Homo sapiens: one gene and its partners. The protein of the gene in region 1 interacts with the protein of each later gene in a pairwise test. Each region holds a gene or a part of one and is shown in the gene's direction. Other genes may lie near its edges.

Region 1 (3,174 bases):
TGCACTCAGTGATCGCAGCCCCTTAGAATATAAACCTATAGAAGAAGGAATTTTGCCTAGTTTTCATCACTGTATGCTCTGCATTTTGAAGAGTGACTGACACATTAGAGGCACCAAAATGTTTGTTGATTGAATAAATTAATTCTAGTTTCTAGACCTTTAAACATAAAGACTCAAAGTTTGTGCTCTGGAGTTGAATGAAGCTGTGTTTGTGTGACTTGCTTGCAACATGAACATGGATTAGTTTTTTAACTTATCTGAAGTTCAGTTTCTTTATCTGTAACATGGAGAAAACAATTGGACTTTATAGGGCTGAGACGAATAAAGAAAATAATGCTCTTAAAGTACTCAGGGCTGGGCACGGTGGCTCACGCCTGTAATCCCAGCACTTTGAGAGGCTGAGGCAGGAGGATTGCTTGAGGTCAAGAGTTCAAGACAAGCCTGGGCAACATAATAAGACCTTGTCTCTACTAGAAATCAAAAACATTAGCCAGGCGTGTTGGAACACACCTGTAGTACCAGCTACTCAGGAGGCTGAAGTGGGAGAATTGCTTGAGCTCAGAAAGTTGAGGCTGCAGTGAGCCATGATCATGCCACTGCACTCCATCTTGAGCAACAGAGCAAGACCCTACCTCAAAAATAAATAAATAAAATAAAAAGTACTCAGTACATTGTAAGTACTCAATAAATGTTATATGCCACTGTTATTATAACTACTACTATTATTATTATCATTGCCCTAATTCTTGTTATGAGGTCACATTGGTGTCATATTTCCAAACCCTCTTTTCATGCCATCTAGGCAGATTTCTGTATATTATTATGTTGATTTACATATTCTGTTTTGTTTTCTCCCAGACCCACTGGAATGTGACAACTCCCTAAATATTCTAAGTGTAGTGTCTGGAGAAAAGAGATGAGACCTGCTAGTGTCCGTCACTGTTCAAGACATTTTTTGGGGGGGTGCTGTGGGGGACGGAGTCTCGCTCTGTCGCCCAGGCTGGAGCGCAATGGCATGATCTGGGCTCACTGCAACCTCCACCTCCCAGGTTCAAGCAATTCTTCTGCCTTAGCCTCCTGAATAGCTGGGACTATAGGCACCCGCCACCATGCCTGGCTAATTTTTTGTATTTTTAGTAGAGACAGGGTTTCACCGTGTTAGCCAGGATGATCTCGGTCTCCTGACCTCGTGATCCACCCGCCTCTGCCTCCCAAAGTGCTGGGATTACAGGCGTGAGCCACCACGCCAGGCCAAGACATTTTATTTAATATAGTAACACATTGATTCCACAAAAGAACACTGAGGGATAGATGTTAATTTTTCCATTTACACGTGAGGAATTTAAACTGAAAGGTGAAATAATTGGTTCAGCATTATGCTCAAAACCAAAGCGTTGTCTGCATTTTTATTTAGCAGTTCTACTTCCGCAGTCTCTTAGTGGAACATTTTAATAATATTCTGCATTATAAAGTACAAAATTAGTTCCTATTCTCATTTCCTTTTTAATGTCGGGTTTCTTTTTGTAAAGTCTTTAGTATCTCAACTCTTCAGTTCTTACACCTCCTCCCTCAGATCTTTTGTTTCAAAAACTGACTACTTCAGGTTATTCTACTGTAAAGAAGGCTAAGCCTTCTTTTCCATTTGAAAAGGAAATAGATTTAATGGGAAAGAATATATAGTAGTGACTCAGATTTAAGATGCTTAATCTTATTTAACATGAACATGACTATACATGATAACTTAAAAGTATTTCTAAAGAGGGTATTCTACAAATGCACTTAATATTAATTTTCTAATTATTTGCATATATCTTTCTTTTAGGATCCTTCCTGAGCGTTTCCTGGCAGTTTTAAAACGAAAAATCAGTGTTAAGTTTGATGCAGTTATTGGATATAAAATGAAAGCGCAATAAGCACCTAGTTTTCTGAAAACTGATTTACCAGGTTTAGGTTGATGTCATCTAATAGTGCCAGAATTTTAATGTTTGAACTTCTGTTTTTTCTAATTATCCCCATTTCTTCAATATCATTTTTGAGGCTTTGGCAGTCTTCATTTACTACCACTTGTTCTTTAGCCAAAAGCTGATTACATATGATATAAACAGAGAAATACCTTTAGAGGTGACTTTAAGGAAAATGAAGAAAAAGAACCAAAATGACTTTATTAAAATAATTTCCAAGATTATTTGTGGCTCACCTGAAGGCTTTGCAAAATTTGTACCATAACCGTTTATTTAACATATATTTTTATTTTTGATTGCACTTAAATTTTGTATAATTTGTGTTTCTTTTTCTGTTCTACATAAAATCAGAAACTTCAAGCTCTCTAAATAAAATGAAGGACTATATCTAGTGGTATTTCACAATGAATATCATGAACTCTCAATGGGTAGGTTTCATCCTACCCATTGCCACTCTGTTTCCTGAGAGATACCTCACATTCCAATGCCAAACATTTCTGCACAGGGAAGCTAGAGGTGGATACACGTGTTGCAAGTATAAAAGCATCACTGGGATTTAAGGAGAATTGAGAGAATGTACCCACAAATGGCAGCAATAATAAATGGATCACACTTAAACTTTTGGTGTTTCCATCTTTTTGTCTTAAACAGAACATGACAACCTTCAAATTAAAGGAAAATAAATTGTGCAATCTTTTTTTAAAAACTGGAAATTTCTTGGATGTGAGGCTCATTGAGATGGGACTATAAGATCAGATCTATAAATTTAAAAATTTAGTAGGTTTGTTAGGTTTCTTCTACGAAAGAAAAATATTTTCAAGACTATATCAAACACGGCTGGTCACAGTGGCTCACGCCTGCAATCCCAGCACTTTGAGAGGTCGAGGTGGGTGGATCACAAGGTCAGGAGTTTGAGACCAGCCTGGCCAACATGGTGAAACTCCATCTCTACTAAAAATACAAAAATTAGCTGGGCGTAGGCCAGGCGCAGTGGCTCATGCCTATAGTCCCAGCACTTTGAGAGGCCAAGGCGGGCGGATGATTTGTATGCATATTAAAATTTGAGAAGCACTTCTTTGGAGCAGTAGCATCCTGGCCAACATGGTGAAACCCCATTTCTACTAAAAATCCACAAACATTAGCTGGGTGTGGTGGCGGGTGCCTGTAGTCCCAGCTACTTGAGAGGCTGAGGCAGGAGAATCACTTGAACCCA
Region 2 (3,500 bases), on another chromosome or scaffold:
GCTTGAATCTAGTAAAGTGCGTATCTGTTATAGCTATTTTCATTTTTTTCCTGTTTTTGATATTTGCAAAATTATGAACATAAAAAAGGAAGATAGGTTGAAATGGGAAAAGCTGGTTTCTTCTCCTCAGTGGCACTGATTGAGCTAATTTTGGCTAGTTTTGTAAGCATTGTTTATTCAGAAGGAAATGTGTGCCTTTTGGACTTTTTGATGTTATATAATGGTTCTGAATTTGCTTTTCATGGTCAGATTTGGCTTCTAATTAACCAGCTGAAGCCAAGAGGTTTTGTCTGATTTCATCTAGGTTAAGAGGTGAAAAGTAATTAGGTGTAAGGGAATCATTATAAATAAGGGCAAGTATCCTTTTTATTTCTTGGGGTTTTAACTAATAGTTGTTGGTCTTAACAATATGGCCTTTACAGAAGTTTGTTGTTGTTTGTTTTGTTTTAAAATTTATTTTTAACCCTGTGTACTAAAGAACAGAGATTTTACTCAGAATACTTGGAATTCCAAGGCAAAACTGATTGGAATCTGGTTCTGTGGTTTTTCCTTTTAAGCAGTTCCTCACCACTTGCCCTAGATTCTCTTATTGCTTGGTACTTATTAATCCCCTCCTTCTTCACAAATTTTCTCTCTTGGTCTTTGTGACTTTGAGCTCACTTGCTGAATCACTCTGCTGAGCTTGTCCCACTTCTTAAATGAAGATATATCCAGAGGATCTGCCCTCAGCTCTCTTTTCCTTTGGTAGACTCATTCAGTCTTGGTTTTAGCTATCTCTTCTGCAGATGACTTCCTCATATATTAAAACTTGGCAAAATCTGCTACATGCCCTATCTTTCCACTATCTTGCCTTTATATCTTATCTTAGTTAAGATTACGCTTGGCTGTCACTGACAGAATAGTGAAGATAATAGTGAATTAGACAATAAAAAGCTAATTTCTCTCACAGCAGTGCCCTGGAATGATACAGCTGCTCCACAATCAACAGGGGCCTCAATTATTTTCTCTGTCTATCTCTTGCTCTACCATCCTCAATACATAGCTTCTACCTCCTGATCCAAGGTGGCTGCTCCTGATCTAACCATCACTGGTGCCAGGAATAGGGAGGAAAGAAAAAGGGAAAAGCATACCCAAATCTTTAAGAACTCTTCCCCAAAGTTGCATATACCAAATATGCTTCCATCCCATTGGCTAGAACTTAGTTCCTTGTGCAGACCTTACTGTAAAGCAGGCTGGAAAATATAGTCTTTATTTTGGGCAACCATATTTTTGTGTTAGTCCATTTTCACACTGCTATAAAGACATATCCGAGACTGGGTAATTTATAAAGGAAGGAGGCTTAATTGATCACAGTTCCACATGGCTGGGGAAGCCTGGGGAAACTTACAATCATGGTGGAAGGCAAAGGAGAAGCAAGTACCTTCTTCACAAGGTGGCAGGAGAGAGGCATGAGTGCAGGGGAAACTGCAACTTATAAACCACTAGATCTCCTGAGAATTCCCTCACAGAACAGCAGCAGGGGGAAACCACTGGCATGATCCAATCAACTCCCGCTAGGTCCCTCCCTGACGTGGGGATCACAGTTTGAAATGAAGTTTTGGTGGGGATAAAGAGCCAAACCAGGCTGGGCGCGGTGGCTCACACCTGTAATCCCAGCACTTTGGGAGGCCGAGGTGGGTGGATCACGAGCTCAAGAGATCGAGAACATCCTGGTTAACACGGTGAAACCCCGTCTCTACTAAAAATACAAAAAATTAGCCGGACGTGGTGGCGGGCGCCTGTAGTCCCAGCTACTCAGGAGGCTGAGTCAGGAGAATGGCGTGAACCCGGGAGGCAGAGCTTGCAGTGAGCCCAGATCGCGCCACTGCACTCCAGCCTGGGTGACAGAGCAAGACTCCATTTCAAAAAAAAAAGAGCCAAACCATATCACATATATTCAAGTAAAAACCAAGTGTTTTAATACTATGAAGACGATGGAGAGGAATGGATATTTGAGGTAACTCACAGCCCCCGCCACAGCTCCTAGACTGTTTCTCATTTAATTTTCTTATATTTTAACAATATGAAAAACTGAAAGTAATTTCACCCTTCTCTGAACTTCAACATCACTTTTTCTTTGTACCTTTATTACAGCACTCAGATATCTTAGTGTGCCTTACATGATAAATTATGTACAAGTATTGGATAACTCCTTGTACAATATATAGAAGACATGTAATAATATTTTTAAATTGGTTGGTGTCAATTTTAAGCGGTCAAAGTGAAAGCACAGTGCAGGAAAATTACATTTTTAAAAAGTGGATTAATTTAATCTGGTCAGTGCTTAATTAATCATAGGCATATATATTATTTGTAGAAGAAATTTAATAGTCATAGTAGACATATTATTTGTTGGAAGCTTTATTGAGAAGTATCTACAGTTTTTATCCATTATGTGTGTGTTTAATTTTTCATTTTTAGGAAAGGAAAACACTCTGAATGGTAGGAATTTAATTCTGACTGATTTACTTCATGTATTTTGTTTTCTTTTAGTACGACTTTACTCCGTGACATAAAAGAAGGACTACAGAAAGCTGTAATAGACCATACAATAAAAGCCATTGTGATTTGTGGAGCAGAGGGCAAATTTTCTGCAGGTAACTCAAGTCTAACCCTCTCCCACCATCTCTGGAATCCAGCCACAGACTGAGACCAATACTGCATTAGCTGTGCTTGTTGGTAATAACTTAGTGTAGGTAATGGATATGGCAGACTTGAGTGAGAATGAGTAACACTGTGGAGAAAGGGACAGGAATTACAAGAGAGACCCAGAGAAGGGCTTAGTCTCTTTTATTGTGGATTGGGCTTTTAGAGTATATTTAGTTCCAGACTTGATGGCTGTTATACACCTGCTGATATATACCTGCATTGCATGTATCTCCACCATATGTGGGCTTGGGCAAATCTCTTTAACTTCCTGAACCTCAATTTCTCTATCTATAAAGTGGGAACAATAATATCTATTTTAAGGGGTTTTTGTGACATTAAGCGAGATAACATATCTGAAAGCCTCTACTACAGTACCTACACAAAGAAGATGGTCAATAAATGTTATTGTTTAATTCACACAGAGTCTTATAATAGAATTCATTTTTCTTCCGATAGTCACCCATCTCAGTGACCATGGCACTGCTTTATTGGGTTATTGTGTGAAGATGCAAAATTATTGACAAAATATGGCAAAAGTATGCTGAAATGGTGATTTATTCAATGGCATATATGGCGTCTTTTCCTTAATATTCATACATTATACCCTTTGACAAAAGTCACATGGATATGGGGGCCTATTCAACCTTACTGTAGCCAGAGAAATTTAATATGTGTTAATGGTAGTCTGAAAAGACACAGATGTTAGAATCATGGCAATAAATAAATATAAAAATGTGAATCATTATAATATTACCATTTATCTTGCCTGTTATATGCCAGTACCATGTAGGTTATTTATTAAATAATAATAA
Region 3 (3,500 bases), on another chromosome or scaffold:
TGCCTTTTTTCTCCAGTCGTTTTCCAGTATTTCGTCCTCATTTTGCATGAACAAAAAGCTTCCCAAATCTCAATGGAAGCCACTGTTTAGTGCTCAGAGGGACCTTCCCATTAGTGCTTCTCTATCACTTGCCTTGGTCTAACTTAGATTTTTACTTTCAAGCAGCAAAGATACTGCAAGATCTTATTGCCCAGCAGTGAGTCATTAGTTTTATTCTGGTTTCTATCCTCATACCCTAAAATACACACACACACACACACACACACACACACACACACACGCAATTTTATAAAGATGAAAATCTATTACACCTTTGGATTATCTCTTGTATTTTCTTAATGGCACATAAAGTGAAAAAAAAAATGAATTGAAATAGATTGAATACATCATTAAGACTATTTGAAACAAGGTCACTTAGGGGAAAATGGGTACTGGAAATAGTTAGAAAGGTCCTCCTTGATGGTAGGAGAGAAATGATCATCTCTATTCAATGATTCTCAGTGAAGTGCAGGACCCTCATCATAGGAAATAATTGTGAACCACCATCTGAAGTGGCCACATTTTTCTACCCCAAGTAGTAATTAACATTCTACTGTCTTATCTAAAACATCCTAATGGGCAATTCACAGACTCTGCTGCACGCTGTTTCAAAGCCATAAGCAAATATAGAACATATTTACTGAGCATATGCCCATCTTGTGTTCTGTTGGAAGCAGAAGATATAATCACTGGCCCTGAAAGGTTTTGGAAAATGAAGAAGAGTAAAAAAATCCAGACAAGGCCGGGCACGGTGGCTCACGCCTGTAATCCCAGCACTTTGGGAGGCTGAGGTGGGTGGATCACGAGGTCAGGAGATCGAGACCATCCTGGCTAACATGGTGAAACCCCGTCTCTACTAAAAAATACAAAAAATTAGCCAGGTGTGGTGGCGGGCACCTGTAGTCCCAGCTACTCGGGAGGCTGAGGCAGGAGAATGGTGTGAACCCGGGAGGCGGAGCTTGCAGTGAGCCGAGATCCCGCCACTGCACTCCAGCCTGGGCAATAGAGCGAGACTCCATCTCGAAAAAAAAAAAAAAAATCCAGACAAGTGCTGAGTGGAGGAACACCTCACAGTAAATGATCAGAGGCAGTTGGCCTGGGAGAGACTAGAAGCTGAGGCTTCTTGCCCTAATGCTGGCATAGGCTCTCTTTGTGGGGATTCCGTCTAAGCCTGGGAAAGACTCTCAACCCCATTTGATTTGCATTTAGTTTTGGGCAAAGGCAACTGACCTCTCAGGCTGGACTCTATTTACTCCCTAGGCACAATTGCTCATTAGGTCCTCAATTGCATACAGAACCAAGCTGAGCAAATCTAAGAGAATTTTCGGAACCTCAGGAAGGCAAGTGCAGACCAATGGCCTCTTTCCAGATCCTAGACACACCCCATGGGCCTGAGCTCAACTCTGAAATTCAACACAGAAACTGGGGTGGGGGAGGGGAGGGCTGACAAATCAAGTGCCACCCTGGAAACTGAATCAACATCAGACACACTAATCATCTGCGACACCCTTGGAATTTTTCAGACTGTGGAGCCAATTGTCACAAACAGTGCAAAGACCTCCTGGTTCTGGCCTGCAGGAGATTTGCCCGGGCGCCCTCCTTGAGCAGTGGTCATGGGTCACTGCCTGGAAGCCCCTCGCTGCCCCCAGGTAATGCCCTCTGCTTTCTTTGCTGCCATGGTCTCTTTCTGCTTGCCTCCTCACACTTGGACCTCATTTAGGTTCTGGGTCTAAACCCGGTCAGTCACTCTAAACGCTAAGGCCTTCTTTAGGGTGAGCAGCAGTAGCTAAACCCTTGAATCATCCTTGCTTCTCTCTGCTTTCTAGTCTCAGGAATATGTAACTTGCCTGCGGCTAATTGAGTTCTGTCCCTTGTCGGTTCCTCTAGAATGTTGCATGCCAGACTCGTGCTGTTTGCACTAACCTTGATGCTTTGCTGTCAAGCAGTCAGATGTCAAATAATCACCACCCTTTTTCACTTCCAGCGCAGGATGAGGTGTTTGAGTTCCCTGGAGTCACTGCTGGACACAGGGATTTAGACAGCAGAGCCATCACACTGGTTACAGGCTCTTCTCGCAAGATCTCTGTGAGGCTACAGAGGGCCACCACCAGCCAGGCCACCCAGACTGAACCTGTCTGGTCAGAGGCTGGCTGGGGGGACTCGGGGTCCCACACCTTCCCTAAAATGAAATCCAAGTTCCATGACAAAGCAGCAAAGGACAAAGGCTTTGCCAAATGGGAAAATGAGAAGCCCAGGGTGCATGCTGGTGTGGATGTTGTAGACCGGGGCACGGAGTTTGAACTTGACCAGGATGAAGGAGAAGAGACCAGACAGGATGGTGAGGTAAGTGCTAGGTCAACCCACAAAGAAAACCAGAAGAAGGAGGCTGAAAGTGCTGAGATGAGCGTTACAGAGGGTCTGGGGGGCAGCCTGGTAGTTCTGAAAGCAGAATGGTTGGGAATGAAGACATGTATCACTTTTAGTCTTGCCACTGCCTAGCTATGTGACCCTGGACATATGTTTCTTCTTTATGGATCTCAGTATCATGATTTAAAAAAATTGAACGAGATCAAGTTCTGAAACCTATTGAAGGCTGTCATGTGTGCGTACTGAAATGATGCCCCAGAAACCCATGACTATATATCCAAAATACCAGTACACGATACAGATCAGCTTGGTTTTCCAAGCTAGAACCAGGGCCCAGACTCAAGAAAGGCAGTAGAAGCAAAAGACTTTTAGATAAAGGAGAATTGGAAACTTTTCATTCTGCTCAAAAGAAGCTTTTGACAGCATCATGGAAAAGGGGGTGGTGAGAATCAGAGATACGAGGCCCTTGAGGATCTCTAAACCAGGCTCTGCCTCCGCATGAGCAAAATCATGCAAAGCAAAGTAGGATGCAGATGGAATTTGTTAGAGTATGCTGACACAGAAATTGATTCAAGATGGAGTTAGATAAATTTATTAGTTAACAGTCTATAGTGTATTAAGAGAAAGGATTTGAGAAAATTGGCATGATATTCCTAACATTTAAAGCAATGTCATGGAGGACAGCCATTGCCACCCTGTCGAATTGTTCTCATAAACAGAATATTGGGTTAGGCAGAGATCCTACTGGATCAAGCCAGTGCTCTTTAGTCTTATGGGTGGTCCTCCACATTCCACTCTTCAGGAGACCTAAACACACGTCTCCATACATTTCCCATGATGAGAAAAACTCCAGTGACCTTTAGCCAGAAATTCCCCTAGTTCCTTCCTCACTGAAGGCAGTGCATAAGGAGGCCACCCATTATCTCTGGTCATACAAGGTTTATTGTAAGTTTCTGCTGAAACACTTTTTTTGTTTCTATAACATCCACTTTTAAAAACAGCTTTGAGATGTAATTCATATGCCATGAAACTGACCCATTTAAAAGTATGCAATTTAGTATACTTTCAGTATGCTTTTAGTATACTCACAAAGT
Region 4 (3,500 bases), on another chromosome or scaffold:
ACCCAGCCCCTATTCAAGATGGAGTCACGCTGGTTCACACAGCTCTGACACAACCACTTCCAGGCTGCGTGTGCGGTGTTGGGGGCTTGGATTCCGTGATGTATTTGTACATTCTCACCCCAAAGCCTTGGTTGTGTGCGAGCTCGGTGGGTGACGCTGTGTAGCTAGGTAGTGCCCATAAATGAATCTTCTTAGGAGCTGGAGACCGTTTGGGGATGCTGTGGTAGGGGCCAAGGGAAAAACATCCCCCTTTGCCATTTGAAGGTTTGCTGAAAAATCAACGCACAAAATACAATTGCCCTTTTTGAAACATGAATAAAGGAAATGACAGGCAAATGTATTCTCATCCATGGAGGAGAATGTCAGAGGAATTGCCCCATTACACAAAGGGGTACAGACGCTTGTGTCCTCTTCTTCTTAGCGGAAGGGGAGTGGGGAATTGGGGGTGAATATAGGATTCCAAATAGTAAATGATTTTAAAGAGAAGTCAATGGGTTTGAACAATGTACAGTGGCCCGAAAACAGATAATGTTTTTTGTTATTGTTGTTTGTTTGCTTGTTTTTTTTGAGACGGAGTTTCGTTCTGTGTTGCCCAGAGTGGAGTGCAGTGGCGGGACCTCTGCCCAGTGCAACCTCTGCCTCCTGGGTTCAAGCGATTCTCCTGCCTCAGCTTCCCGAGTAGCTGGGATTACAGGCATGTGACACCACGCCTGGCTAATTTTGTATTTTTAGTAGAGACGGGGTTTCATCACGCTGACCAGGCTGGTCACGAACTCTGGACCTCAGGTGATCCACCCGCCTCGGGCTCCCAAAGTGCTGGGATGATAGGTGTGAGCCACTGCGCCTGGCCTCAGATAATGGTTTATGACGAGTCTCTGCAGGGACAGAGGCTGTGGAACCCTCAGAACAGACAGTGGTTTATGAGGAGTCTCTGCAGGGCTGTTGACAGACATCAGTCTTTCCTCCGCGATGTGGGTTCAGAAACTCAGGGAAGGGGACACTGGTCATTTTTCCTTCTTTGACATGTCCAGACTTCAGGAAACTTCAGAGAACAACTTCATCCTGTGCATCGGGAGACACAGAGGAAGCAGGAGGGGGAAGTTAGAGAGATCTTGAGGCTTCTTCAGTTCAGCAGGACAAAGCACCGTACTTTGGGGTGTTGGTTTTTAAGACCCAGCAGCTGAAAGCTCCCACATTTCTGCAATGATCTTCGTTGTCGTGATGCATTAACTTCTTAAGCACTGCAAGATTTCATGCCCCAGCCATTCCCTTGGGTTTTTTTGTTTGTTTGTTTGAGATGGAGTCTAGCTCTATCACCAGGCTGGAGTGCCGTGGTGTGATCTCGGCTCGCTGCAGCCTCTGCCTCCCGGGTTCAAGTGATTCTCCTGCCTCAGCCTCCTGAGTAGCTGGGATTGCAGGTGTGCGCCACCATGCCCGGCTAGTTTTTGTATTTTTAGTAAAGACAGGGTTTCACCATGTTGGCCAAGCTGGTCTCGAACTCCTGACCTACCTCAAGTAATCTGCCCGCCTCGGTCTCCCGAAGTGCTGGGATACAGTAGTGAGCCACCGTGCCTGTCCTCCTTGAGGTCTTTTGAAGTGATATGTATCTGGGAGCTATAGATTTACTTTCTTTCCTATCTATCTCAAGTCGGGATACTAAAGTTTTAATAATTTGTTTACAAAACAAAGAAAGAACCTTGAGAAGCTTTTCTATTTCTCCCTTTACATTGCAGAATCGTCTAATTAGCATTTTTAAAAGTGTCTGCTTTTGAAACACCGCCACGATTCACCTTCAAAACCGCATGGGTTGAGGAATTTTCGGAAGAGCGATTCTAACTCAGCTTTCAAAATTCCTTGGGCGTCTACTGCTTGTTGAAGTTTCCCACCTCTTTCTGAGTCAGTTTAGACAGCTTTTCCCTTTAGGTAATTGTCTGTTTCATCAAGCTTTGGAATTAATGAGCTTGGTTACAAATTCTCTTTTCTCCCTGTTGGACTCCTGGCATTGCTCTTGATTTCGTCTGAAAGTCTCTCATGATATGAGCTGCCCGCCCCCAATGTGGACTTTTTGAGGGGATTAATTACTTCCCTTATTTTGCAGTTTGCTTTCTTATCAGTTGTTCTTCGAATCTCTCATTCCTCAAGCAAAGGAATTTCTTTTTTTCTTTTTCTTTTTCTTTTTTTTTTTGAGATAGAGTCTCGCTCTGTCACCAGGCTGCAGTGCACTGGCGCGATCTCAGCTCACTGCAACCTCCGCCTCCTGGGTTCAAGTGATTCTCCTGCCTCAGCCTCCTGAGTAGCTGGGACTGCAGGCACCTGCCATCAAGCCTGGCTAAGTGTTGTGTTTTTAGTAGGGACGGGGTTTCATTATGTTGCCCAGGCTGGTCTCGAACTCCTGACTTCGGGTGATCCGCCCACCTCGGCCTTCCTAAGTGATGGGATTACAGGCGTGAGCCACCGCGCCCAGCTGTACATCCCTTATTTTGCAGTTTGCTTTCTGATCTGTTGTTCTTCACATCTCTAATTCCTCAAGCAAAGGAATTTCAAAATATTAGTTATTTTATTAAGCACTAAGTATTCGCTAGCAATACACCAACACTAGGATACATTTCATCCTTATAAAACCCCCATGAATCCCTCAGAGAGTGACTTCAGTATCCAAGGAGAGCATTTGCTGTTTTTTTATTTTATTTAATTTATTTATTTTTTTTGAGACTGAGTCTTGCTCTGTTGCCCAGGCTGGAGTGCGTTGGCGCGATCTCAGCTCACTGCAAGCTCCGCCTCCCAGGTTCATGCCGTTCTCCTGCCTCAGCCTCCCGAGTAAATGGGACCACAGGTGCCCGCCACCACGTCTGGCTAATTTTTTTTTTATTTTTTATTTTTTTTTAGTAGAGACGGGGTTTCACCATGTTGGCCAGGATGGTCTTGATCTCCTGACCTCGTGATCCACCTGCCTCGGCCTCTCAAAGTGTTGGGATTACAGGCGTGAGCCACCACGCCCGGCCTCTTTTAAATTTTTTAGAGACCAGGTCTTGCTCTGTCACCCTGGCTGCTGTGCATTTTTTTTTTTTTTTGTAGAAACGGCATCTTGCTGTTCGCCCAGGTTGGTCTTGTGCGCTGGAATTATGACACAATCACTGGCTGCAACCTTGAAATCCTGGCCTCAAGTGATTCTCCCACCTCTGCCTCCCAAAGTGCTGGGATGACAGGCATGAGCCACCATGGCTGGCCTTGACATTATTTCTTTCTAAATATTTAACAAGCAAACTGCAACTTTAGCCACATGAATCATTCTTTAATCCTTTGATCATCATCTGCAAATTTGGATTAAAAATAACCACGGGGCATTGCTCGAGTGATACTGCCTTTATATAAGAGACAACATTGTGGAAACTTTAAAATTATAGAGCAGAAGAATATGCATTAGCCTGGAAATGAAATTAAAATAATGTAAGAATTTTAAAGAAAAGGCTATACAGCTGCAGTAGCTTGATGCTGTCTTT
Region 5 (3,500 bases), on another chromosome or scaffold:
ATTTTAATTGAATCCAGTTTAGCAGTACATTTGTTGAAAGATATTTTTTAAAATGAACTTAAAGCATTAAGACAGGAAAACAGGAGAAATTGATTTTTAAAAATTAATATTTATTTTGGCCAGTCACGGTGGCTCATGCCTGTAATCCCAGTGCTTTGGGAGGCTGAGGTGGACAGATCACTTGAGCTCAGGATTTCAAGACCAGCCTGGGCAACATGGTGAAGCCTGAAATTCTGTCTCTACAAAAAATACAAAACCTTAGCCTGGCATGGTGGCAGCACATCTATAGTCCCAGCTATTCGGGAGGCTGAGGTAGGAGAATCGCTTGAGCCTGGGAGGTGGAGGTTGCAGTGAGCCAAGATCGTGCCACTGCACTCCAGCCTGGGTGACAGTGAGACCCTGCCTCAAATAATAACAATAATATTTATTTTCTATCTTCTGGAGTATATTTGAAGTTGACTGGAGGAGGATAAGAATGATGTGCTGGTAGACATGATAAATATGTGTCCATTTAGTCCATTTTATGTGATAGACTTTGTAAGAGCAAACGATGTTTTCTTTTAAATAGTGACTTCTCTGAAATATTTTACACTAATCATCTCACTTTTGTTGAAACTTCCTTTGGCTTCTATAGGATCACTTTCACCGGCATATATTTCTGACCTTCTCTTTCTTCTTATGGGGTCTTCCTTCTCTTTTCCTCTCTTAAATATTTCTATTCCCAAGGTTCTTTTCTTCATCTCTTCTTATGCTATGTATTCTACCTAGGTTACTTCATCTACCCATATTTTCAGTTTCTACCTGTAGAATAAGGATGCTCCTATTTATTTTTATCACCAGATTACTTTGCACCTTAAACCAAACAAGTATAAATGGAACTTATCTTATTCCTGATTACTCCCTTACCACCCACAATCTGATCCTCTGGCTTCACTACTAATCTTATCTAAAGGCCAAGCCAGACAGCTGAATGTTAATGGTAAAGCAATTAATATACAGGTTGAGCATCCCTAATCAGAAACCCAAAATAGAAAATGTTCTAAAATTAGAAACTTTTTTAGCACCAGTGTTGTGCCACAAGCGGAAAATTCCATACCTGACTTCCTGACAGGTTGCAATTAAAATGCAATCAAAACTTTATTTCATGCACAAAATTATTAAAGATACTATATAAAATTATCTTTAGGCTGTGTGTGTATGATGTATATGAAACATAAATGAATTTCATGTTTAGACTTGGGCCCTGTCCCCAAGATATCTCATTATGTATATGCCGATATTCCAAAATCCAAAACAATCCAAAATCTGAAACACTTCTGCTCCAAAGCATTGTGGATAAGGAATACTCAACCTGTAATGTATAGTCCAAACAGGCTGTTTAGAGAGTAAAATGGAGCTTTGGTAATAACTACTACAAGAGATTAGGTATAATCAGAACCATCGTATGCAAACAAGAATACAAGGTCACCTAAGTCTTAGGATAACTTCTTTTCCTTTATATTCCATATCCATTTGCTCAGAGCACTGTCTTCTACTGCTTTACTCTCAACTTGATCCCCATACCCTCATTTTTTCCTCAAGTAAATTACTCAGATAAATCAAATAGTCTTCTTGATGCTTCTCTACCCTTCTCCATTCCAGCTTGGCAGAGTGATGTTTTAAAAATGCATGTTTGCTCAAGTCATACTCTAAGTCATTCAGTGATCATCCATTGCAGTCATGGTAAAATCCAAGTTTCTTGTGTGACATATAAGACCAGTTGATAACAGTGCAGAAACAAGGAGACTTCACCTTGTCTCAACCATCTCTAAATAGAGGCTATACACTAGCAATAAAGAAAATCATCTTGCTCTCATTTTATTGTTTTGGCTTAAGCTTTTCTACTATATTTTCTTTTCACCTGGACCAAGTACTCTTTTGTTTTTAAGAGACTGGCGTGATCATAGCTCCTCCCACCTTAGCTTCCCAATAAATTTGAGGACTGCAGGCACATGCCACCACACCCGGCTAATTTGTTTTTATTTTAATAGTGATAGGCTCTCACTATGTTGCCCAGGCTGGTCTTGAACTCCTGGCCTCAAGCAGTCCTTCTGCACCATCCTCCAAAAGTGCTGGGATTACAGGCATGAGCCAGCATGCCCAGCCATTTTGTTTTTCTTACAGAGACAGGGTCTCACTCTGTTACCCAGGCTGGAGTGCAGTGGCATGATCATAGCTCACTGCAGCCTCGAACTCCTGGTCTCAAGTGATCTTCCTGCCTCAGCCTTCCAAGTAGCTAGGACTATAGGTGTGTGCCACCATGCTCAGCTGATTGACTGATTGAGATGGGGGTCTTGCTGTGTTACCCAGTCTAGTCTCAAACTCCTGACCTCAAGTGATCCTCCTGTCTCAGCCTCCCAAAGCATGAGTGAGCCATAGTACTCAGGGTCTACTTTTATTTTTTTTGAGATGGAGTCTCTCTGTGTCATCCAGGCTGGAGTGCAGTGGCGCAATCTTGGCTCACTGCAACCTGCACCTCCCAGGTTCAAGCAATTCTCCTGCCTCAGCGTCCTGAACAGATGGGACTACAGGCATGTGCCACTACACCTGGCTAATTTTTGTATTTTTAGTACAGATGGGGTTTCAACATGTTGGCCGGGCTGGACTTGAACTCCTGACCTCAGGTGATCCACCTGCCTTGGCCTTCCAAAATGCTGGGATTACAGGTGTGAGCTACCATGCCCGGCCCAGTCTCTACTATTTTAATACCTCTCCCTCCTTCCTGCTCTGCCTGATTTCCTACAGCAAAACTGTCCCTCCAGGAATCTACACAACTCCCATGCTGCATTCTTTTATCATGTGTTTGTCATTGTTTTATAATTAGCAGTTTATCTCTTTATGTTTTAATTTTTGTATCGCTAAGAACGTATTTAAATGTTTGCCGAATAAGTTAGTCCTTTTTTTTTGAGACGGAGTTTCACTCTGTCACCCAGGCTGGAGTACAGTGGCACGATCTTGGCTCACTGCAACCTCCCCCTCCTGGGTTCAAGCGATTCTCCTGCCTCAGCCTCCTGAGTCGCTGGGATTACAGGTGTGCACCACCATGCCTGGCTAATTTTTGTATTTTTAGTACAGACAGGGTTTCACCATGTTGGTCAGGCTGGTCTCGAACTCCCAACCTCAGGTGATCTGCCCGCCTCGGCCTCCCAAAGTGCTGAGTGTGAGCCACCACGGTTTAGATGCCATCCCTGTACCACCACCACCCCCTAACCGTGTTTCAAGTTGGTTGACCATGGACAAATGATTGGTAATTGACATTGTATAGAAAAGCAAACTTCTGATTTATTTGTTATTAGTTCACCACACTAAAAACTTAATTAGCCATCGGAGTTGCAATTACATGACTCCAAATTTAAGTTTCCTTTGAATATAGCCACATTAAACCAATTAAAAATCTGAAGTACATATTGAATGCCTTTAAAAATGAGAAAATGGACCTAATTGTTACACCCGGTTAGAAA
Region 6 (3,500 bases), on another chromosome or scaffold:
ATTTTTTAGAAATGTTCAAGCATCAGTATTCAAGAGAACTCTTGAAAATTAAGTCTTCTAATGGCAGCATTGCTCAGGGATTAGAATTGAATTAGCACAATAGATCCTAGGATTTCTTCTTTATTCTGTTAGAATAGTTTAATTGTCTTCACTTCAGTTCCTCCTCTTTAAAATGAAAGTAAAATATGAGCCCCTCTTTTCTTCAGAGGAATGATGATATACATATAGAAAGTCTTAAACTCTGTCATTAAATTCAGTGGCGATACGATGGGGCTTTGTTTTGAGTGTAGATCTATTGTACTAAATGCCGTTGCTGCTTATAAATTGAATGTATAGTTTCACTACTTAATGGTTCAAGAGCTAAGTGTTATAAGGATAATTTTATAAACCCCAATTTCCCTAGAAACTGGTTTAGTCTCCTTTTAATCTTTTGATAGAGTAAATAACAATAGTATAGATGTATAGTTCAGAATTTAAAATCAATGTGAGTCGGTCTTGTTTTCAAAGAGCTTTAAAGCATTTTTCTCTGTGGTAGAAAAATAGAAATTCTAGATTTTTAATGATGAACTATATTTCTACATGTGTTGCTAATTTTATTTTTAGAAGCCTAATTTGAATGAATAAAATGTTATTGATGTTATTTCTGTATGAATGCATATATTTAATAATTTAATGAATTACTATATTATATGTGCATATATGATGTATGTAATTTTGCAGCACTAACATGTTGATTTAACTTGTATCTGTTTTTATTAATGCTTTGCTATTCTTTTATAGTCACTTCAGCTTTAATTTTTAAGATTAATTTTTTATCATATTTCAGGGAACCCATATTGAAATGTCTATTGGAATTATTTTGGGAATTTCAACTATGGCAGGTATTTAACAGTAGTAAATGTTATTATTTCATTGTACACTTATAAAACATTTCAGTAGATTAAGTTTAGAGGAGGGTAATTTATTTGAATGAGTTTACTCATTGAGATATCTGTTAATTTTCTTCATCCTATTCTTCTGATTCTTAGTTTTGTACATGTAGCACTTTTTCTGAAAATTTTAGGTACTTTATATTATTAGTTATTGGATAACAATACTCTGCTATATTGATTTCGTTAAGACAAGATTTTCTGGCAATTCAGTGTTACCCCTAAACATTTCTACCCTTGGTCTCTTTTATTTATTTATTTATTTATTTATTTATTTAGAGACGGGGTCTCACTCTGTCACCCAGGCTGCAGTTCAGTGGTGCAATCTCAGCTCACTGCAACCTCCACCTCCAGGTTCAAGGGATTCTCCTATCTCAGCCTCATGAGTAGCTGGGACTACTGGCGCCTGCCATCATTCCTGGCTAATTTTTGTATTTTTAGTAGAGACGGGGTTTCACCATGTTGGCCAGGATGGTCTTGAATGCCTGACCTCGTGATCTGCCCGCCTCGGCCTCCCAAAGTGCTAGGATTACAGATGTGAGCCACCACGCCCAGCCTATTATTTATTTTTTATTTATTTATTTTTGAGTTGGGTAGAATTTTTTTTTTCTTGAGTTGGGTAGAAAAATCAAAGAAGGAAATACAGGATTAAACATCTGTCTTCTCTGTCCCATTTACCACTCTATTCTTCACAGAGGTAAAATTTGGGAAGAGTTCTATGTTGTATTTATTGTAGAAAGCATTAGGTAAATGAGTTAATGAAAGAAACATATTTTTCTCCTTGACTTTCTTGAATTTCATAGCTGTACATGCAACTTTACCAATTCCTTTAAATATTATATGAAAGATACTACAAAATATTCTACAATTAATATTGAAACCAAAATGGAAATTGGCTGCCATAACAAAAAAACCTACTACTTAATGGAGGTAGAATAGCATAATTTCAAAATTGTGTTCTATTTCAAAACCTTGAGAGTAAGAGCTGTCCAATGAGTTACTTTGGATATGGTTGCTGTTGTTTGAGAAATATGAGAACTCTTCCAAGATCAGTGCTTTATTGATTACATAGTGATATAATTATTATTCTTTTATGTAACAATTATTTATTTTTCAAATTTTTAGCTGCTGCTTTGGGAAATCTTGTGTCAGATCTAGCTGGACTTGGGTAGGTTCATTCACTTATTCATTTGTATATTCTGTACTTGCTGTCTTTCTGTTCCCCACTCTTCTTTAATTGAGAAGCATAACAAAAGAATATTTCATTTTTCTTTGTTTTCTAGAATTAAAATTTCAAATTTACTTTTTCTAAACTAATAGTACTAAATCTTTGGTATCCATCAAATATAGATGCCTGGGTGATATCCCAGTTATACATTATTAGTGTCTCTGGAGAGGGAGCCCTGGCAGTTGTGTTTAGTAATTTTCATGAGTGGTTCTGATGTATGCAAAAGTTTATTCTAAATTTACCATAATGTAAGCAAAATGGAATTTGTGTTTACTGAAGTATTTATATGTATTTTATAGACATCTCCAAGGGTAAGACAGGAGTAAAAGGAAGAACCTCTCTCATTATTCCACCTCACCCTACTCCCAGAAAACCCAAAGAGAAGGGATATGGCTCGAATTTGAGGATACTGACTAGACATGTTTTCTAGAGGGGGGAACTTTCAAAGGAAATAATGGCCAAAGCATATATGGGTTTGGCTGTTTTTTGCTCTCTTTACTTTATGTGGCAGGAATAATGAAACAAACTAAGGACATCTATTTAGAAAAGGCCAGCTTTCTCTCTCTCTTTACATTCTTGTTCCAAGTAGCAGATGGCCTGAGTTGCTTCCTGAGCTTGGGGAAGCCTGGGGGAGTATAAATTAGACTAAGTGGACATTATTATGATAAATATGCTCTGTCTTGCTCTGTCTTTGATTTTGTCTCTTCTTTCCTTGACTCATTTGAGTGTTACAATTTCAGATTTGAATTTTTTCTTAGAAGTTTACTTAGCCCTATAATCTAGGCAAAGCAGCTTTTTAAGTGATCTAACCTTAACCTTTTATATTAGACTTCTGCACTGGAGTTTGGGGCCAAAGCCACAGTTAAAAACAAAGTTTCTTTGTTTTAGGACCATGGCAAGAATTTTATATTCTTCGAATTCCTGGCATAAATGTATCATGATATCATCTCTTAAACATTCTATTCCCAGTTTCCAACATTAAAGTAAATAATGAGAATATTACAGTCATTGTATAGCTTTCTGATATATTTAATAGAACCAAATGATCTAAGAGATTTTAAAGCCATTTAGCTATATATTGCATCATAAAACAATTGTTTTTGTTTAGAGATGAAGATTTTTCTGGAAGTCTTTGTATTTAAAAACTATTTCTCTTCTCTCTTTTGGGGGGTATCATTCAATAACAAATACCACATTTTAGGCATTCTCAGATGCATTTTAACGTATCTGATATCAGGATCCATCTTATTGTTGGTAGTATACATAGTTTAATTAGCAATATTTTTTCTTTCTTACAGTTCATAAAGTAAGGATGTATCCAATAAATGATGGCAACTTAGAAT
Region 7 (3,500 bases), on another chromosome or scaffold:
ATAAAATAGGAGGCAAGTTTGCCTGACACAGTTACCAGCTTGACTTTTCCCTTTGGCTTAGTGATTTTGGGGTCCCGAGATTTATTTTCTGCATACTAACAAAATGCCTGGTTTTGCAAAAATATTACAGATTTAGCCAGTTCTGCTTAAGTTGTCTGGATGATAGCATGGTTTTCTGCATTTGTCAATAGAGACCACTTCTTGATATTCATTGTGTTTAAATCCATTTAGATCTAAAGGGTTATTTTGTGGAGTCTTACTTTGAATCTTTGCATTAAATGAAGTATACTTGAAAAAGAAGGATTTTTTTTTTAAACTTCTCATGCCTTCCTACTGAGAATAAAATTCTCTCTCTTTCTCTCATACACACACACCCTCCGCCCCCCCCGCCCCCCCACCGCCACACACACACACGGGCTTTATCAGAAGGGTTCTCAGTCTGACTTTGGTTGATTTAGCAACAGCAGTGTACTGAGGATAAATCTGGTGTTTGGTAAAGTCCTCCTGTGTGGTTGGCATGCTGGATGAAGGGCAGGGGATGTGGCTAGCGATCTCAGTAGAGGACCAGTGGTTGGGTAGACATGGTGGTCATTGTGGAGAACATTTTAGTTGCAGAGAGACCTGGGTTCAAATGCCAACTTAGTTATCTGTGAAACTCTTAGTCCCAGTCTCTTCTTTTACAAAATCTAGTTAATTACCTATTCTGTCCAATTTTTGAGATAATTATGTTATGAAAATTACCTGACACAGTTAAGTGTTCAATATTTGGTAGTTACTAATATTTTAAGCAAAACTCTGCAACTATAACTTCTGATACCAGCCTTTTTTTTTTTTTCTTTGAGACGAAGTCCCACTCTGTCACCCAGGCTGGAGTGCAATGGTGTGATCTCAGCTCACTGCAACCTCCGCCTCCCGGGTTCAAGCGAATCTCCTGCCTCAGCCTTCTGAGTAGCTGGGATTACAGGCACACACCACCACACTTGGCTAATTTTCATACTTTTAGTAGAGACAGGGTTTTGCCATTTGGCCAGGCTGGTCTCAAACTCCTGACCTCAGGTGATCCTCCCGCCTCAGCCTCCCAAAGTGCTGGGATTACAGGCGTGAGCCACCGCGCCCAGCCAATACCACCCTTTTACAGGCATAGTTCAGATATGCTAGTTCCATTCCAGATACTGCAGTAAAGCAAATATCACAATAAACTGAGTCACACAGATGTGTTGGTTCCCAGTGCATATTAAAATCATATTTACACTGTACTGTAGTCTTTTAAGTGTACAATAGCACTATGGCTCTAAAAAACAATGTACAGACTAATTTAAAATGCTTTATTGCTTAAAAATGCTGACACAGAGACATGAAGTGGGCATATGCTGCTGGAAAAATGGCACAGGCAGACTTGCTGGACACAGTTGCCACAAACCTTCAATACGTAAAAATTTAAAAACTACAGTTTCTGTGAAGCGCAGTACAGTGCAGTGTGGTAAAATGACATATGCCTGTATTTTCCTTTGTAACTTCTGACTAGTACAGCAGAGCTTTTGTATGTGCTAGTTAGCCAATAAATGCTGTCCACTGTTAATATAAAATTCTAAAATCTGGCCTAGAATTAATACTAATGTAAGTCACGTATTCATTACCAAGAAATTCATGAAAAACAAATGGTGTGTTTTAAAATTTCAATAAATAAGACTTTCAAAGGAATAGTTTCATTCATAACAAGCATTCTGCCCTGAATGCAGTAATTCTGGAGGCCACTGTCTTAGTCTGTTCTCAATGCTGCTATAAAGAAATATCTGAGACTGGGTAATTTATAAAGGAAAAAGGTTTAATTGACTCACAGTTCTGCATTGCTAGGTAGGCCTCAGGAAACTTATAATCATGGCAGAAGGCAAAGGAGAAGCAGGCACCTTCCTCACAGGGTGGCGGGATGGAGTGAGTACAAGTGGGGGAAATGCCAAATGCTTATAAAACCATCAGATCTTGTGAGACTCACTGACTATCACGAGAACAGCATGGGGGAAATTACGTCCATCTGGCCCCACCCTTGACACGTGGGGATTCTGGGGATTGCTGTTCAAGATGAGATTTTGGGGACACAGCCAAACAATATCAGGCACAGAAGGGGACCAAATCAGCCTGGAGTTTAGCACATTTCATGTGAGTCTGTATCATAGTTTGAATTAAATAGAAAGGGATTCAGTGTATTTTTGAGAACCTATGTTGTGTGAGGAACTAGAAAGAGAAATGACTACATGTAATGATGACCATCACAGAGGAGCTACAGAAGCCAGCATAAGGTGGTGGTTTGTGGAGATGGGGAATAGTTGACTCCTGGTGCTGGGAATTGCAAGTGCAATGGCATAGAGGTGTGAACAGCACACTAGGTCTGGGAGCATAGGGTGACACCGAGTCACTGGGGAAGAGATGTGACTAGAGAAATTGGCCTTCATGCCATTCAGGAAAAAAATTGGACTTTATCTCATAGACTGCATGTGTGGGTTGGGGGCAAAAGGAGGTGGGGAGCTTTGAGGCTTTAAAGTAAGGAAATAATGTCAAACTCACACTATCTTTTCCATGGCAGTGGAGGAGGCAAAAGTTGGAGTAGTGAGTGGGCAAGGCTGGATACACTTGCAGAGGTCTGCGTAGGAGTAGAGGAGGCCCAGATAGTATGGTGGTGATAGGAATAGAGAGGAGAGATGGATTCGAGAGCTTCCTGAGATAACAAGGTATGAGGGGGGATCAGGAAGAGGGAGTGGGTGGGAGGCTCCTTTGGGATGACCTGTAAGATTTTGGCTTAGATGACTGAGGAAGCAGCAGATGCAGATGAAGCAGCCCTTGCTGGCCTGTTGAGTTCAGGGAGCTTCCTGAAGAGTGAAAAGAAGGTCAGTAGACACTGAGGTTGATGACTCTAGACCTAGAGGCAAGAGTCTGGGCCATGATGAGCCTCTGACTGGCGTTAATATGGAGCTGGGAGGTGAAAACCACAGTGCCTTGGAGTGCTCTCGGAAGGCACATCTGTCTTTCAGAGGAAAGACTCTCACTGAGGCCAGAAGCTTGAAAAGCGCCCATTTGGGATAAGCGGGAGAATAGGGGCAGCAGAGAACGTCTACAGAAAGGGCGCTCTTGGGGAGCGAGCTACATACTGATTCCATAAAATTTGAATGGCACACATTCTTGGCTAAAAAGGAAACTGTCTTGGTAAGCTCTAGTTTGTTCAGTATTGTTTTGGCATTTTCAGATAACGAAATGCAGGGACTGTTAACATTAGTATTGTACCTCTGTTTATTTTCCATTTTTATCCCCAGTGACGGAATAGCGTATTCTTAATTGTACCCTTGAGATGAAATGAAATAATACATTAAAAAATACATTGAATTTCCAATATATGTTTATAATACAAGTTTTGTTCTTTGAAGATCTTACTTTTCTGTTACTTGGATATTTTACTTTTTATTCATCATTGAACTGAAAAACTAGTAGGCCATGTTGTAGAACAGTGA

The links.
Region 2: the proteins of HSD17B11 (region 1) and EHHADH interact in binary tests that used the Homo sapiens proteins (3 or more experiments, as listed by UniProt).
Region 3: the proteins of HSD17B11 (region 1) and RASGRP3 interact in binary tests that used the Homo sapiens proteins (3 or more experiments, as listed by UniProt).
Region 4: the proteins of HSD17B11 (region 1) and DHRSX interact in binary tests that used the Homo sapiens proteins (3 or more experiments, as listed by UniProt).
Region 5: the proteins of HSD17B11 (region 1) and ORMDL1 interact in binary tests that used the Homo sapiens proteins (3 or more experiments, as listed by UniProt).
Region 6: the proteins of HSD17B11 (region 1) and TMEM65 interact in binary tests that used the Homo sapiens proteins (3 or more experiments, as listed by UniProt).
Region 7: the proteins of HSD17B11 (region 1) and UNC50 interact in binary tests that used the Homo sapiens proteins (3 or more experiments, as listed by UniProt).

The regions. Positions count from the first base shown.
Region 1 is NC_000004.12:87,336,015-87,339,188, reverse strand, and holds the end of HSD17B11 (estradiol 17-beta-dehydrogenase 11 precursor), read left to right. Parts: intron 1-1,822; coding exon 1,823-1,913; 3' UTR 1,914-2,674; downstream 2,675-3,174. UniProt on the Homo sapiens protein: Can convert androstan-3-alpha,17-beta-diol (3-alpha-diol) to androsterone in vitro, suggesting that it may participate in androgen metabolism during steroidogenesis.
Region 2 is NC_000003.12:185,247,550-185,251,049, reverse strand, and holds part of EHHADH (peroxisomal bifunctional enzyme), read left to right. Parts: intron 1-2,532; coding exon 2,533-2,636; intron 2,637-3,500. UniProt on the Homo sapiens protein: Peroxisomal trifunctional enzyme possessing 2-enoyl-CoA hydratase, 3-hydroxyacyl-CoA dehydrogenase, and delta 3, delta 2-enoyl-CoA isomerase activities. Catalyzes two of the four reactions of the long chain fatty acids peroxisomal beta-oxidation pathway.
Region 3 is NC_000002.12:33,556,649-33,560,148, forward strand, and holds part of RASGRP3 (ras guanyl-releasing protein 3), read left to right. Parts: intron 1-1,562; coding exon 1,563-1,688; intron 1,689-2,023; coding exon 2,024-2,382; intron 2,383-3,500. UniProt on the Homo sapiens protein: Guanine nucleotide exchange factor (GEF) for Ras and Rap1.
Region 4 is NC_000023.11:2,238,977-2,242,476, reverse strand, and holds part of DHRSX (polyprenol dehydrogenase), read left to right. Parts: intron 1-3,500. UniProt on the Homo sapiens protein: Oxidoreductase that plays a key role in early steps of protein N-linked glycosylation by mediating two non-consecutive steps in dolichol biosynthesis.
Region 5 is NC_000002.12:189,777,840-189,781,339, reverse strand, and holds part of ORMDL1 (ORM1-like protein 1), read left to right. Parts: intron 1-3,500. UniProt on the Homo sapiens protein: Plays an essential role in the homeostatic regulation of sphingolipid de novo biosynthesis by modulating the activity of the serine palmitoyltransferase (SPT) in response to ceramide levels.
Region 6 is NC_000008.11:124,320,702-124,324,201, reverse strand, and holds part of TMEM65 (transmembrane protein 65), read left to right. Parts: intron 1-826; coding exon 827-881; intron 882-2,054; coding exon 2,055-2,097; intron 2,098-3,500. UniProt on the Homo sapiens protein: Essential for maintaining proper cardiac intercalated disk (ICD) structure and function as well as cardiac conduction velocity in the heart.
Region 7 is NC_000002.12:98,611,589-98,615,088, forward strand, and holds part of UNC50 (protein unc-50 homolog), read left to right. Parts: intron 1-3,500. UniProt on the Homo sapiens protein: Involved in the cell surface expression of neuronal nicotinic receptors. Binds RNA.